Linked DNA regions of Homo sapiens: region 2 is linked to region 1. A link means that fine-mapping ties the variant in region 1 to the plasma level of a protein whose gene starts in the linked region. Region 1 holds a variant in brackets. A gene starts in the other region. All regions are shown on their reverse strands.

Region 1 (8,330 bases):
GGGATCTGAAAACCTCAGGCCCAAGACACTTGTGAACAGGTGGCAGGGGGTGCTGGCTCAGCTGCAGCTCTGACAGGGCTCAGGGGTGAGACCCTGTGAGGCACTGACGTCAGATCATGCCGGTTCATGAAGGAGGAGATTGGTGTGACACTTTGTATCCCACTCATAGCTAGCAGGATTTGCAACACTTAGACTTCCTCCAAGCATGGTATCCGGGCTTCAAAGACACAAGCAATCTGAGTGTATGTGGAGTGCTGGAAAAAAATACCATACACCAAGTGACTTAGAAACAACAGAAATATATGTCTTGGTGTTCTCGAGGCTGAGAAGTCCAAAACAAGGTGCCAACACACTTGGTGTCTGGTGAGGACCAGTTTTGTGATTCATAGACGGCACCTTCTCACTGAATCCAACTCGCTGCAGATGACATAATTTCATTCTCTTTTATGAATGTAGTATCCCATCATGTATATGTACCACATTTTCTTCATCCAGTCCAACACTGATGGCCATCTAGGTTGACTCCATGTCTTTGTTAGCATGAATGATGCTGCCATGAACATACGAGTACATGTGTCTTTTTGGCAGAATAATTTGTTTTCCTTTGGATATATACCCAGTAGTGAGATTCCTTGGTTGAATGCTGGTTCTATTTTAAGTTATTTGCGAAATCTCTAAACTGCTTTCCACTATGGCTGAACTCATTAACATTCCCCTCAACAGTGTATAAGCGTTCTCTTTCTCTGCAGTCTTGCCAATATCAGTATTTTTTAACTTTTCAATAACAGCCATTCTGACTAGTGTGAGCTGGTATCCCTTTGAGGTTTTATTTTGCATTTCTCTAATGATCAGTAATGTGGAGCATTTTTTCATGTTTCTTGGCCTCTTGTATGTCTTTTTTTTGAGAAGTATCTGTTCATGCCCTGGCACGCATTTTAAAGGGGTCATTTCTTTTTTGCTTACTTATTTGTTTAAGTCCCTTGTAGAGGAAAATCACTTTGACCACGAGATCACCACCAACCAGCCTTTCCTTACTGCTACAAACACGGACCTTGCCATCTCCAGTACACGGTGCTGGCTCATGGCCAGTACCCAAACCCTTGACTTGCTGCTTCCCTGACCTCATGCTTTGCTGATTACCCCAAAAATGACCTCATTAGAGTGGAATTTTGCTGAGATCACCATTTGCTTTCAGAATAAGCCCATTACTTTATGGTGCAAGGAACCCATAGAGCCTCAGTGAGATTGTAAAGCTGCCCTACAAGCTACGGAAAACTATGGACTTGGGAGAACTGTGTGTAAGAATACCACGCCCGAATCTCACCAGCTCTCCAGTGATAACGCTCATGCAGTGCTGCGGAAATGCCTGTGGACTGGAGTGTGCTCTGTGTGCAGGAAGCAGGTCCAGGTTTCACTTCCGCAGGACATGGGACATTTCCAGAACCCAGAGATCTTCCTCTCGCTCATATACACCCCTTCATATTTAGTCCCTATAACCTCATCATTGCGACCCTACAGGCACCTACTAATGCCCTGGAAGCTAAAACTGTCACCAGAGCCTCAGTTTCCCCAAAGAGCCCAAATTTCTTCTTATGCTGGGGTGAGACTGGTGCTCACTTCCTCCAAAGCTGAAGTTCCTGGGCCTGCCACACATCAGGAATTCACTGCTTCCTCAGAGGGACAGGAGACCCCACTGCTCTGCCACAGTGACCGCCCCTAGCAAGGCTTGAGATGCCTCCTCTACCTTAAGGTTGAGGGAGATGCTTTAGTTCTCACTCCACTGCCCCCAGGCCTCCACCGGCCGATGCCTGCTGCCTGCACACAGAGCTGCAGGGGAGGCCCTGAGCACCCAGCCTGTGGGACCAGCGCTGTGCATGACCTTCCCATGGCAGCAGGGGCTGTCTGGCCTGTACACTGGGTTCAGCAACCTCACCATAGGTATTTACTGCCTCTCGAGTGACTGCTTTCTTTTCTCATTTCCAGAAACCTTATCACATCTACCTCACTATGAGAAGGAGGAGGAGGGTGGATAGTGGTACATTTTAAAATGTGCTCTAGTTTTCCTAGGACTTCTCCTGAAATAACACAGGAGGGACCACAGGAGCTCAATCCTGCATATCTCGAGTGACCAGTGATCTTCCCACTCACGCCGTGTGTATGGAGGCTCTTAAGCCTGCCCAGAATTGACTTAAGAGCAAGGTATTTGAGAACACAGCACCAGGTGATGTAAGCTAACACCCATCTTGCTTCCACCTTGGCCGCCTCCCTGAGAGACTTCCAAAAGACATTAGATCTCAAGCAGGAAACTCAGGAGTCCTTGGCGCCAGTGGTCCTAGACACTCGTTTAGCCTTAAACTGTCCATTGCCCAAGCAACGAGGCAATTGTCCGCTCCCGGGAACCACATGCTGTGTGCACATCCTTAACAAACCCAACAAAACCTGCCCTGCCTGGTAACACAAGCCGACGTGGGATTCAGTCTCAACCAGGTGGTCTGCAACATCCCAACCCAGCCAATCGGCTTTGATGTGTTGTTACGGTTAGAGCACAGGTACTTGGGAGGCTGGTTCAGGCAAGATTCCTCATCCTCTCCTGTGCATGGGTGTCTGTCGTAACTTGTCTCCCTAACAGAGTGTATCCTGTGATATGCAGGCCAGGCTCTCCTGGGGGCTTTAAGTATTCCCTGGGTGCAATTACCTCAGCCTGAGCCATCAGCACAGGCATCTCGGGGTCCATTGTCTTAGGAGTCATGGAATCTATCATTGGTTGCTGCCTGGGCCTGGCCAGGGCTGACCGAGTTAGATGCGGGGTTCTCTGTGGACTCATGTCTACACCACAGCGTCCCTCCAAATTTCTCAACTGCCCTTGCCACCAGAGTTATTTAATGTACCCAACAGAAAGTAACCCAGGATATTAGGATACCTGATCCCAAATCACCCTTAAATAGGGAAGTCCCCTCCTGTTTGTGCACGGCTGCTCTTGCTACAGGAGACCAGGGACAGAGGACTGCTGTCTGCCCTCTCTGGTCACTCTGCCTAACTTCAGGAGCTGTAATTAACACAGACCTTAAACTCTCACATTGAGGTTTCAACATTGAGCCTGTGCCCCCAGTCTGACCTGTGACTCCTGGACCACCCCAGAGGGACCTAGTGGGTGAATCCCCTGCTGTGCATTTCTCTCTGAACCTCTGGTGGTTGCCTGGGGCATTGGCTACCAGCTAAGTTAATAGAGAAACTCAGGAAATTTCCTTCGAAATACGCGTGTCCTACTTGACGTGTCTAACAGAGACAATAGTAGCGCCTTGAAACATTATTTTATTTTGAGAGGAGCCTATCCTGCTCCTTGGCCTGTTTTTCAATCAGGTTATTTGTTATTTGCTATTGAGTTGTTTGACTTACTTATGTATTTGGATATTTACCCCTTCTACCACTTAGGGTTTGCAAATATTTTCTCTCATGTTCTGGGTCACTTTTTCACTCAGTTGTTTGTCTTTTTGATTTTTGCCATTCAGATGCTTTAATGTTCAATGCAGCCCCACTTGTCTATTTTTCTTTTCATTGCCTGTGTCTTTGCTGCCATAGCAAAGATATCATTACCAACATCAACGTCAAAGCATTATCTTCATATGTTCCTCTCATCATTTTATGGTTTCAGGTCTATGTTTGGGTCTTCAAAACATTTTGAGTTGATTTGTGTACCTAGTATATGATAAAAAACCACATGTATATGAACATCAAATCCTAACGCAGTATACAGTAGATCTGTACCATTTTTAATTCTTATTCATATCTCAGTAGAGCTGGAAAAATTTCTTTTGGATGTAGATGAACTTTTTACCTCGATGTCACTGTGTTCATTTCACCTATCACGTGATAGGGTCATGGTCCTCTTCACACTGGCTCCTACAAGAGACTACTAACCCCATGACTTCATGAGGGTGGTCACGCCCTTGATGCCTGCAACAAATGACTCTTCACTTGATAGGAATTTATGCCTGCTGCCAGAGTGTAGACCTCCAGGAAGTAGTGGGGCCATCTGCAGAAAATGACACATTTGCTCCCTGAACTTACTGAACAAAAGCACTGCTGTTATCTTTTGGTTATTAAAAAGTAAATATGGAATGAAGTGAGAAACAGGAAAAACATGCCAGGATCCTCATCTTCACCATCTTCTCCAAACACCTGATCCATCTACTCACACTTTCTAGTGTGAATAGAGATTCACACTACAATAAAAGCTGAGAGATCAAAGGAGGAAAAGAGGGACACTGAGACCAAAGGGATCCCACACAATCCCCGATGAAATGCACACCTCCTCTCACTGAGAAGTTTCAAAGTTTCTGGTCTCTGAGCCTTCTCTCTGCAGACCTATAAACCCAGGCTAACTCCTCTCTCCCCACACATCTGCTCCTGCTCTCCCTCCTCCAAGTCTCTGTAGCCATGAGGACCCTTGCCCTCCTCACTGCCACCGTTCTCTTTGTGGCCCTGCAGGCTCAGGCGGAGCCACTTCGGGCAAGAGCTGATGAAGCTGCAGCCCAGGAGTAGCCTGGAGCA[G/C]ATGATCAGGAAGTGTCTGTTTCCTTTACATGGGATGAAAGCGCTGCACTTCCACTTTCAGGTGAGACAGGCCGGCATGCAGAGAGCTGCACAGTCTAGAGGGTTGGACGGGAGAGAGAGTCTGGAATCGAGTCTCAATGGTCCATGTCACTTAGGTGGCTTCATTTAGCATCTCTGGTCCTTGGTATTCTCATCTATAAATTGAAGAGAGAGCCCAATAAATCTAACAGGTTTTCTGTCTTTAAAGACTTAAGGCTGCTCTGCATGGAGAGCAGCCATTATTTTACTCTTTTACTTTCTTAATAATCCTTTCACTTTAGAAAAAATAAATAAAAAGGAAAGACTTGATTCCAAGATATGCCTGTGAAACTCAGTAGGTTTAAGATATGAAGAGACAGTCTGACTACTTCTTTCTGGATCTAAACAAGTAGATTTCATTATAAGGAGAATATTTTACTGTATCTATAGAATGGTTTTTTAAAAGTAGAGCCAAGCCTAAGAGTGTGTTCAGGTGTGTGTGTGATGGGGCAGAAGCACAAAAATGAGAGCAAATGAGAATGAGTCTCAAATCCTGTGTGACCAGCACTGCTCTGTGTATTTATTCCTATTGACTGAGGTTGTTCATGCTACCGGCCCTAATGCAGACAACATCACTCATCAGCTGGCACGTGACTTCTCCAAGATTCCCTTTACAACCCACTGTTGACCTTGGTGATCCATTTCTGATGCTGTCCCTGTGTCCCCAGGCTCAGGGAGAGGCTTGAGGTGCATTTGCAGACGAGGAATTTGCCATTTCTTTCAACGTCGCTTTGGGTCCTGTGCCCTTCCTGGTAGATTATACCGGATCTGCTGCTGCTGAGCTTGCAGAATCAAGAAAAATAAGCTCATTATTTACTTTGAGAGTAAAAGAAATTCTTGTTATTCCTGTACCTTGTCCTTAATTTCATTTTCTCATCCTAAATAAATACCTTATCGCAAGATTTCTGTCTTTACATCTCTTTCACATTTGATGTGTCTTTGTGTCTCAAGACACTTGGCATGCACCTACCAGAATCCTAAGTTTTTAAACAAAACAAAATTCCAAATTCTAGGAATTTCAAGCAGGAGTTTTGGCTTCAGACTCTAATTGAAAAGAAGGCCCATATGACACCACCAATCTCCCCATCCACTGCTCTGTCTTTTCACTCTGTCTCATTTTCTCTGGATCCACTCAAAGAGCTCCCTCCCGTGTACTGGGCAAACAATCGGTGTCAGCTTAAAGTTCATGCAGTCACAAAATCATTACTTCTCCGGGAAAACCACCATCCTCTGTGCTAAAGAATTGGAGTTTCATTGAACAATGTCAGATTGTACATTTTCCTTTTAAGACATAGGGTTACATGAGATCCACGGAAAAAACTTTCTGTAAGAGGGAAATGTGTTGTTAGCAAAGGTGGGATGCATGGAACAGAAAGCACAGCAGCTTACACTGGCATGTCCTCATTAAGAGCACCCTCCAGCCATGTCTACTAAGACCTGGATTTCACATCCATAAACTCTTCTTCACACCCAGAAAATGCACACACACAAATGCTCCACTGCACTTTGCAACAGGCACTCTCTTGTGTTGCCTTAAAGCTTCTGAGAACTGAATCTGCCTGGAAAATACAGCTTCATAGGGGATAAGTGATGAGGGAGGGAAAGCATTTCACCGGGAAAATCGTAGCCTTCTTGTTGTTGCAGGGTGCTGAGGCAGCTCAGAGGTCCAGGCACCCCACTGAGACACTGCATGGATGGGGAAGCCACCAACACCAACCACAAATGCCCAGACCCCAGGAGGAAGGAGTAGGCATTCCCCACGTCCACCTCATGCAGATTCTGAGCAGGTCTCGGCCCCAGACTGAGGCTCTGCCTGTCTGAAGTGGCAGCTCAGGGATCCAGGCACCCCACTGAGATGCTGCATGGCTGGGGAACTCAATACAGATCTTAGGGACTATAGATGAGCCTATGACTGACACATAAATGGTCCCAGCTCTACCTCTTCTTTAGAGAAGGAAGGACACACATTAAGATTGAGAATGCAATGGCCAGACAACATTCCTTGGGTTCCTATAACTGCCACTGACTTGAAGTCACATGGTGCTTGCTTTAACTCTGCATACTGCTCCTAACTGTCCGCTGGGCTGGGCTGACTCCCTCACACGGCTTTTGCACTTCACCCAGAAGTCCACCTTTCTTGCACCCCAGATCCTGGAGTCTCTGCTAAAACTTCCCTTTGTCACTGAGGGCTTTGCTGATTTCTCAATTTTAAATTGCAACTAGTTCCCCCTGGAAACCTCAATCCCCTTCTTCTCTTATTTTAAACTGTAGAGTTTCACACCATCTTACATTCTGTACATTTCACCTGCTTTCTGTAATGTTTGCCTCCCTACTCTAGAAGGTGAGCTGCAAGTTTTACTCATTGTTGGGCCACAGTACACAGACGACTCCCTAATAAATAGTAGAGGATCAGCAAATTCATTATGATTACATTAATTAGTCATATCTAACATCACATATTATTACAAAATTACATTGTTATTACAAAACTTCGTAGAATAAACCTGACACCTATGGGGATAAAGCACCCATGTGCCTAGTCCATGTGACAGCATTGCTTTAAAAATCAATAAAAATCATTTAAACCAACAGGAGAATATCATGAGTAGAAAATGGCTTTGTGAAGCATCACTACCTTCTAATGAAGAACTAGCCATTTTGGCCTGTAGTGGCAAGACAAGAGTTTATGATATATCTTTAACTGAAACATACAAGATATTGAAAAATTCAATACATTAAAAAGAAGAGGTAGAGCAGTATTCTAGGTAAAGAAAATGGCATTGGGACAAGAAGTATGAAGGGTCAGATAGACCTCCAGTGAATTTAGAGGAATTGCTTTTGCAACAGAGAAGAGTAGAGCAGAATTCCGGCCGACATGGTGAGAAGTATCCATCAATCCAAGGGAAGGGGGCAGATGAGGACGGAGCATCCCATCGTCCTCAACTGGGGCACCACATGTGGCTTCTGCTACTGCAGTCCAGGGTGGCCAATGAAAGCAGCAAACTCTAGGGACGGAGAATGCAGGGAGAGATGTGAGGGTCTCCAGACAACCAGGGTAATTTTCGCAGCCTCAAATAAGACCACGAAATGATTATTGAAAACACAAACTCTGTATGTACACTGAAGACCTACTAGGCATTTTAAAGAATCCACTCATGTGATCGAACGATAAAGAATAAGTCAGAGGTGGGCCATGTTTTCACAATGTGATTATCCCAAGACATAGCATCCCTGTCTCATTGTAGGGCTTCCCCTGTGAGGCTCTGAATCCCTACAGGGCATGGAAGCACAAAGAAAAGTGTGCTTGGCAGTTTCATTTCCACTCACCCCCTTCTATTCTTAAGCCCTCATCCTTAAGATGTGAAGCTGTGTCTAGAAAATCTCCAGGAATCTTCTCATCCACAATTTCCAGTCTAAACTCACTTGCCATTCCCCATGTTTACAACCTTCCTTCAGTGAGCACAGTCTACACAGCGTCCTACTGAACGTCTTCATACATTTCCTCTACACACTGTTCTCCACACTTGGAACTTAATCTCTCACCTCTCTCCTTGCCCCAGTCCTGTCCTGCTTCAAGAAGGACATGAAGCCTCTACTGCTCCACAGTGTCACTTGACTTTAGTTAGGCACTTACTGGGGACACGTTTTTTGGCACCAATGACAGTTGTAAGACAATTTTTCCATGGGTGGGGGGGCTGAGG
Region 2 (8,330 bases), not on the chromosome of region 1:
CCAAGTAACTGGGATTACAGGCGCCCGCCATCATGCCCGGCTAATTTTTGTATTTTTATAGAGATGGGGTTTCACCAGGTTGGCCGGGCTGGTCTTGAACTCCTGACCTCAGGTGATCCGCCCACCTCGGCCTCCCAAAGTGCTGGGCGGCATTCACTGTGTGACCTCTGGGCAGCCACCCAACCTCTCTGAACCTGGGCCTCCCCCCAACACCCCGCTGTCGGGTGCAGATAACACCAGCCCCTGCTTCCCGGGCTTTGAGGGAATCTCTGAACATCTGACATCTGCACAGGCAGTGCACCTGCGGTGGGTGCCCCTAAGGCCGGTGAAGGTGCCACTCACGCGTCCCCACAGCCCCCTCCCCCACCAATGAACAGAAACCAGGAGCAGAGGAGAGATCGGCTTCTTTATTACAGCCAGGGCCCCTCTGGCCGGAGCGGGGGCAGGGGCGGGGCCGTGGGAGGTGGGTGCGGAGCGCCGGAGGTGTGGAGGGCGGGGCTGGGCTCCATGGGAGGTCACAGGCCCCCCTAGGCTGGCCCCGGTCCCGGGTTGTTGAGAACACCATCGATCCAGTCTCGGAAGAGCGCCACTCGGGTGAAGAAGTCAGGGCCTCGGCCACAGGGCCCCAGGGAAAAGGAGGCCACGCCGTGGGCCAGGCCCTCGCAGACGAGGGGGGTGCCCCCGTCCCCCTGGGCAGGCAGCAGCTGTGTCAGGGCGTCCCAGGGCCTGGCTCCCACGCCACCCCAGAACTGCAGAGGCCTCTTGCTGCCCCTGGAACCTACAAGTCCTGATCCAGCCCCAGGGCCTTTGCATGGCTCTTCTCTTTCTCTGCCCTGGTTAACTGCTAGTGGACTTTGGGATCAGTTGCTTTCTGGAGCTTCCTGGCACCTCCAGGCTGGGCCAGGTGCCCCTCCCCTGGCAATCACACGCCTGAGTCCCTCAGTGACCGGCTCTACCATGCCTGCTGGGTCCCCAACCCCCAGCACAGACGTGGCTCACAGCCGGCGTTTGATAGCTACTGTTTCTCAGCCAGGCACGGTGGCTCATGCCTGTTATCCTAACACTTTGGGAGGCCAAGGTGGGTCGATCATGAGGTCAGGAGTTCGAGACCAGCCTGACCCACATGGAGAAACCCTGTCTCTACTAAAAATACAAAATTAGCCGGGCGTGGTGGCGCATGCCTGTAATCCCAGCTACTTAGGAGGCTGAGGCAGGAGAATCGCTTGAACCCAGGAGGCGGAGGTTGCAGTGAGCCGCCGAGATCACGCCACTACACTCCAGCCTGGGCGACAGAGCGAGACTCTGTCTCAAAAAAAAAAAAAAAGATACTGTTTCTCCTACCGTGAAAATGCTCAATCCTGGGGCCCCCCTGCTGTGCCGCCCTCAGCCTGCACTTGCTTTCTCCTGCCACGGAGAGCTCAGTACCTCTCAGGACCCCTCCTCCCGCCACAGGGAGCACTCACATTGCAGATGCCACCGCGGCGGGTGAGCACACCGGTGCACACGTTGTTGGGGCGACACTGGTCCTCGGGGGTCACAGTCACGTTGACAAACCTGGGAAAACGGGAGAGACGCCCCCCACTGCGCTGGCTCCCCCAGCCGGCCACCTGGCATCTGGTGCCGGCTTCCACCGTGGCGTTCTGCAGAGGCAGTGGCAGTATCGTCACGCTGCTGGTGAGGTTGGCCTCACGGTCCAGCTGGGGAAGGAAATGGAGTCAGGGGAGGGTGGCCCTGGGGACTGGAGCCTCATGGGGACCCCTGGGAGCAGAAGTGTCAGCGACATTAACTGTAGTCTGTAAGTGGTTTGCGTTTAATTCCCGGCAGGGGCCGGGTGCGGTGGCTCACGCCTGTATTCCCAGCACGTTGCGAGGCCAAGGTGGGTGGATCACTTGAGGCCAGGAGTTCGAGACCAAACTGGCCAACAAGGTGAAACCCCCGTCTCTACTTTTTTAAATTTTTTAATGATATTTTTGAGATAATTTTATCATTTTCTCAAAGAAAAAAACCAAACATGAAAAACATTCACATGATTCTGTCATAGCAAAAGCATTTGAAAACGACGTCAGTCTCCACCAACAGGAGGCTCCATACGCGAACCGTGGTACATCTGTATGTGTTGCTGTATTGTTTTTGGAAGTTTTTTTTGAGATAGGGTCTGGCTCTGTTACCCAGGCTGGAGTGCAGGGGCGCGATCTCGGCTCACTGCAAGCTCCGCCTCCCGGGTTCAAGCGATTCTCCTGCCTCAGCCTCCTGAGTAGCTGGGACTAGAGGCGCCCGCTGCCATGCCTGGCTAATTTTTGTATTTTTAGTAGAGATGGGGTTTCACCATGTTGGCCAGGCTGGTCTCAATCTCCTGACCTCGTGATCCGCCCACCTCGGCCTCCCAAAATGCTGGGATTACAGGCATGAGCCACCTCACCCGGCAAGATACACACACACACACACACACACACACACACACACACACATATATATTTTTGTAGAGACTGAGTTTGGCCATGTTGCCCAGGCTGGTCTCGAACTCCTGACCTCAAGCCGTCCTTCCGCCTCGGCCTCCTGAAGCACAGGGGCCACAGGTGCGCGCCACCACTCCCGGCTAATTTTTGTATTTTTTTGTAGAGACCAAGTTTGGACTTGTTTCCCTGGCTAACGTCGGCCTCCCGAGGTGCTGGGATCACAGGTGGCACCATCCTCTCACCTGAAGCAGCATCAGGTCGTTCAGGTTCTGCTGGGGGTCGTAGCCATTCTCGCTCATGCTGCTGATGGAAAACGTCTGGCGGGACTGCCTCTCCCGCCGCCTCAGGTCATAGGCACCCAGCACCACGGTGCTAACCCCGGGGTTCCTGAGAGTAGCGGAGGAAAGGGCAGAGGGAGGACACCAGGCTGGGGCCTGGGCACAGAGCAAGCCGGCTTGCAAATTAGGGGGGATCCCAGCCTGCAGACTGCAATCCTTCACCCTGAAAACTCCCCCGCTTTTACAGAAGCAGAGCCGAGACTTTCCAGGGCCCCCTTCCCATCTTGAGCCCCTTCCCTTCTCTGCGCCTCCTCCTCCATCTGAGCCCCTTCTCTTCTCTGCGCCCCCTCCTCCATCTGAGTCCCTTCCCTTCTCTGAGCCTCCTCCATCTGACCCCCTCCCCTTCTCTGCACCTCCTCCATCTGAGCCCCTTCCCTTATCTGGGCCTCCCCCATCTGACCCCCTTCCCTTCTCTGCACCTCCCCCATCTGACCCCATTCCCTTATCTGGGCCTCCCCCATCTGACCCCCTTCCCTTCTCTGCACCTCCTCCATCTGACCCCCTTCCCTTCTCTGCGCCTCCCCCATCTGAGCCCCTTCCCTTCCCTGGGCCTCCCCCATCTGACCCCCTTCCCTTCTCTGCCCCTCCTCCATCTGAGCCCCTTCCCTTCCCTGGGCCTCCCCCATCTGACCCCCTTCCCTTCTCTGCACCTCCTCCATCTGACCCCCTTCCCTTCTCCGCACCTCCTCCATCTGAGGCCCTTCCCTTCTCTGCACCTCCTCCATCTGAGGCCCTTCTCTTCTCTGCACCTCCTCCATCTGAGCCCCTTCCCTTCTCTGCACCTCCTCCATCTGAGCCCCTTCCCTTCTCTGGGCCTCCCCCATCTGACCCCCTTCCCTTCTCTGCACCTCCTCCATCTGAGCCCCTTCCTTTCTCTGGGCCCCCTCCTCCATCTGAGCCCCTTCCCTTCTCTGGGCCTCCCCCATCTGACCCCCTTTCCTTCACTGCACCTCCTCCATCTGAGCCTCTTCCTTTCTCTGGGCCTCCTCCATCTGACCCCCTTCCCTTCTCTGGGCCTCCTCCATCTGAGCCCCCCAATATCCTTGGGTCCCTCCTCAACTCAGTCCCCATTTCCCTCTCCAAGCCCCCTCCTTTCCCTGAGCCCCTCCTTTTGCAATCCCCTCCCCTCCTCACCTACCAAGCACCCCCACTGAATGCCTAAGCCCCCCAAGCCCCTTCTCTGAGCCCCAATGCCCCCTAGGCCCCCTCCCCAGGACCCCTCACTGGCTTTGGAAGCAGCTGGCCGCGGTCATCACGAAGCGGGCATGGATCAGGGCACCCCCGCAGAAGTGCCTGCCTTGATTCTGAATGGAGGCCAGGAACGGGAACTGGCGGGGCCTCGCCTTCCGGCCGCCAACGATGTCCAAAAGGGGGCTGGAGCCTGGGTCGGGGGGAGACAGCTCTGAGATCCCCAAGAATCCACACAGTGGCCGGGAGGGCGTGTGAAGCTGCAGCCTCAGCTCTATCCACCCAGTGGGGCTGCGGGGGGACCCACCCTCCCCCATCGTCCCACTCCCTAAGAGGACAGGGGGCCCCTGAGTCCCGCACACCGTCCGCCCTCACGCCTTTCGCGGGATCGTCCAGGCCGGGCTGGCTGTGTGACCCAGGCCAAGCCGCTTGCCTTCTCTGTGCTTTAAGTCTGAGTTCTGCCCTGGCAGCCGGGCCCTAGCACAGATGGGGGACCACCGGCACAGAGAGGCACTCACCGGCCCTCGAGGACGCCAGCAGACCAGCCAGCAGGGCCAGGACTGTCAGCCGGGTCATGGCGGGGCAGGTCTGTGGCTAAGGCGGCGGCTGCCCTTATACACAGGCCTTGGCAGTTGGTGGCGTCCCCGCCCAGGCCCAGGGACAGCCCCACTCAGTGGGAACACGGGAAATTGCCCAAGGCCTCCACCGCCAACTGCTCCCTGGGCCAGCCTGGGCTCCCCCTACATTCTGCACTGATCCTCAGTTTCCCTCTCTAGAAGATGGCCACACCCCCAGGGGCAGGTGAGGGTGTCAGGAACCAGTGGATCCCGGAGCCCAGCACATGGCGGGCATGCAGCCAGCACCCAGGAACATTGCCAGCTCAGAGTCCCAGTCTCCCCATCCCAAGCCACTGGGGCTCCAGCACTGCCCGCTGGGCCTGGCACCGGGGGGCTCAGGGCAGTGGAGCTGGCAGTCCTGCGTTGAGTCCTGCGCGTCTGTATGGGTGATTATTATTATTATTATTATTATTATTATTTTGAGACGGAGTTTCGCTCTTGTTGCCCAGGCTGGAGTGCAATGGTGTGATCTCGACTCACTGCAACCTCCGCCTCCCAGGCTCAAGTGATTCTCCTGTCTCAGCCTCCTGAGTAGCTAGGATTACAGTTGTCCACCACCACGCCTGGCTAATTTTTTGTATTTTTAGTAGAGATGGGGTTTCACTATATTGGCCAGGCTGGTCTCAAACTCCCGACCTCAGGTGATCCACCCACCTCGGCCTCCCAAAATGCTGGGATTACAGGTGTGAAACACTGTGCCCGATTGGGTGATTTTTTTAAACTTTTTCAACAGCTTTATTGAGATATAATTGACAAGCTGGGTGCGGTGGCTCACACCTGTAATCCTAGCACTCTGGGAGGCCGAGGCAGGCAGATCACCTGAGGTTGGGCGTTCAAGACCAGCCTGACCAACATGGAGAAACCCCATCTCTACTAAAAATACAAAATTAACTGGGCGTGGTGGCACATGCCTGTAATCCCAGCTACTCAGGAGGCTGAGGCAGGAGAATCACTTGAACCTGGGAGGCGGAGGTTGCAGCGAGCCGAGATCGCACCATTGCACTCCAGCCTGGGCGACAAGAGCAAAACTCCATTTCAAAAAAAAAAAAGAAATTAGCTGGGCGTGGTGGCGGGCGCCTATAGTCCCAGCTACTTGGGAAGCTGAGACAGGATAATCGCTTGAACCTGGGAGGTGGAGGTTGCAGTGAGCCGAGATTGCGCCACTGCACTCCAGCCTGGGTGACACAGAGAGACTCCGTCTCAAAAAAAATAAATAAAAACAAATTAAAAACTATATAAAAATAAATAGACGAAATGTCCAGAACAAGCAAATCTGCAGAGGCAGGAAGTGGATCTGTGGTTGCCAGGGGCCGGGGGAGGGCAGGGGGTGATGGCTGATGGATGGAGATGGGGCTTCCTTCTTTGGGGTGATGGAATGTTCTGGGACTGGACAGCAGTGATGGTTGCACAAGTCGGTGAATGCACCGAAAACCACTTCACTGTACCGTTCAAAATGGCTAATTTTAAGTTATGTAAATTTCATCTCCTTCTTTTGTTTTTTTCAGAGTTGAGGTCTCGCTGTTGCCCAGGCTGGAGGGCAGCGGCACCATCTCAGCTCACTGCAGCCTCAATCTCCTGGGTTCAACTGATCCTCCTGCCTCAGCCTCCCGAGTAGCTGGGACCACAGGCACCCGCCACCGTGCCCGGCTAATTTTTGTATATTTTGTAGAGATGGGATCTCACTATGTTGCCCAGGGTGGAGTGCAGTGGCACGATCTCAGCTCGCTGCAGCCTCCGATTCCCGGGTTCCAGCAATCCTCCTGCCTCAGCCTCCCAGGTAGCTGGGACCATAGGCACATGCCACCATGCCCGGCTAATTTTTGTATTTTTTTGTAGAGGTGGAGTCTCACTATGTTGCTCGGGCTGGTTTGAAACTCCTAAGCTCAAGCAATCCACCTGCCTCGGCCTCCCAAAGTGCTGGGAGCACAGGTGTGAGCTACTGCGTCCAAACTCACCTCCATTTTTTACAAAGGGGCTCATTTCCAAGGTGAAACTGAGGTCTGGAGCTTACCGTGTCCCCCACACCCTTGGGGACACCAGTTTGTGTCTGGGCCTGTGGGAGCCCTCTGAGGGCAGTTTGCCCCTCCAAGGGGCGGATACGGGGAGAGTCCAGGGAGGCGGGGCCGGTGTGCCTTGAGGTCCGCTGCCCATCGGGAATGTAGGGTCCCAGGGCTCAAATCTGGTCTCCAGGCCGGGAGCGGTGGCTCACACCTGTAATCTCAGCACTTTGGGAGGCCGAGGCGGGCGGATCATGAGGTCAGGAGATCAAGACCTTCCTGGCTAACACGGTGAAACCCCATCTCTACTAAAGATACAAAAAATTAGCCGGGCGTGGTGGTGGGCGCCTGTAGTCCCAGCTACTCAGGAGGCTGAGGCAGGAGAATGGCGTGAACCCAGGAGGCGGAGCTTGCAGTGAGCCGAGATCGTGCCACTGCACTCCAGCCCGGGAGACAGTGAGACTCCATCTCAAAAAAATAATAATAATAATAATAATTCCGGTCTCCACTGAGTTTCACAGCCCAGCCACCTCACAGGGTCCATGGCACAGCCCCCAGATCCCTGCCTCCGTCCAAGCCAGCTCTCCCTCTCTGCCCACCCCGGATCCTACCTGTCCATCTTCCCTGCGGAGGCCCCAGCCTCCATCCACCCTGTCCTGGCCAAACGTGGGCCTCAGCTCTCCCGTGGGCCAGGCCCCATTTCCCCTCTGCCGGGAGCCGGAAGCTCTGTCCCTCCCAGTCGCATGACCTCAGGGCGAGCTCGCTGTCTGCACGTCAGTGTGCCCTGAGACAGGGATAGACTCTGCCTTCTAGACAGAACAGTGCTGAGCATGGAGTGGGGTTCATATTCTGAAAAGTTTTTGAGGCCGGGCGTGGTGGCTCACGCCTGTAATCCCAGTGCCTTGGGAGGCCGAGGTGGGAGGATCACTTGAGCCCAGGAGTTTGAGACCAGCCTTGGCAACATGGTGAGACCCTCTCTCTATTAAAAAAAAAAAAAAAAAGCTGGGCGCGGTGGCTCACGCCTGTAATCCCAGCACTTTGGGAGGCCAAGACGGGCGGATCACGAGGTCAGGAGATCAAGACCATCCTGGCTAACACGGTGAAACACCGTCTCTACTAAAAATACAAAAGAATTACCCGGGCATAGTCCTGGGCGCCTGCGGTCCCAGCTACTCGGGAGGCTGAGGCAGGAGAATGGCGTGAACCCGGGAGGTGGAGCTTGCAGTGAGCCGAGATCGCGCCACTGCACTCCAGCCTAGACGACAGAGTGCAACTCCGTCTCCCAAAAAAAAAAAAAAAGGCTGGGCTCCGTGGCTCCCCTGTCATCCCAGTACTTTGGGAGGCTGAGGCAGCAGATCAGCTGAGGTCAGGAGATCAACACCAGCCTGACCAACATGGGGAGATCCTCTTTCTACTAAAAATACAAAAATTAGCCCGTCGTGGTGGCAGGCGCCTATAATCCCAACTACTCGGGAGGCTGAGGAGGGAGAATCACTTGAACCCAGGAGGTGGGAGGTTGCAGTGAGCTGAAATCGCACGATTGCACTCCAGCCTGGGCGACAGAGCAAGAGTCCATCTCAAAATAATAGTAATAATAATAATAATCATTTTTAAATAAAAGTTTTGAGCAGCGTCTGGTACGCTCAACCCCTCCGGCCTGCTCGGAACTCTCCCATCACTCAAGCCCAGGCCCCACACTCAAGCCCAGGCCCCTCAGCCAAGCAACGTGCCCTC

Direction of the effects. Alleles are on the strand shown, and positions count from the first base shown. The strength of an association depends on the size of the effect and on how common the allele is.
With allele G in place of C in region 1, the plasma level of the protein whose gene starts at base 4,568 in region 2 is higher (weak association).

The links. PIP is the posterior inclusion probability: the model's chance that the variant is causal. Protein levels are from antibody-based Olink assays in UK Biobank. Linkage for the fine-mapping came from a reference panel and not from the study's own genotypes, which makes the PIPs less certain.
Region 2: AZU1 starts here. The variant in region 1 is fine-mapped to the plasma level of the AZU1 protein (UK Biobank, PIP 0.99).

What each region holds. Positions count from the first base shown.
Region 1 is chr8:6,965,221-6,973,550 of GRCh38, reverse strand. It overlaps the pseudogene DEFA10P. Among named protein-coding and RNA genes, the nearest start is that of DEFA1, 11 kb to the left of the region's middle. RefSeq lists enhancers at 1,356-1,856, 1,857-2,357. The variant G/C (reference allele first, on the strand shown) is at 4,552.
Region 2 is chr19:824,075-832,404 of GRCh38, reverse strand. AZU1 (azurocidin 1) reads right to left here and starts at 4,568. Exons shown (of 5, transcript NM_001700.5): 1 at 4,501-4,568; 2 at 4,019-4,175; 3 at 2,699-2,843; 4 at 1,464-1,697; 5 at 387-689. The coding sequence starts at 4,558. The coding sequence ends at 528.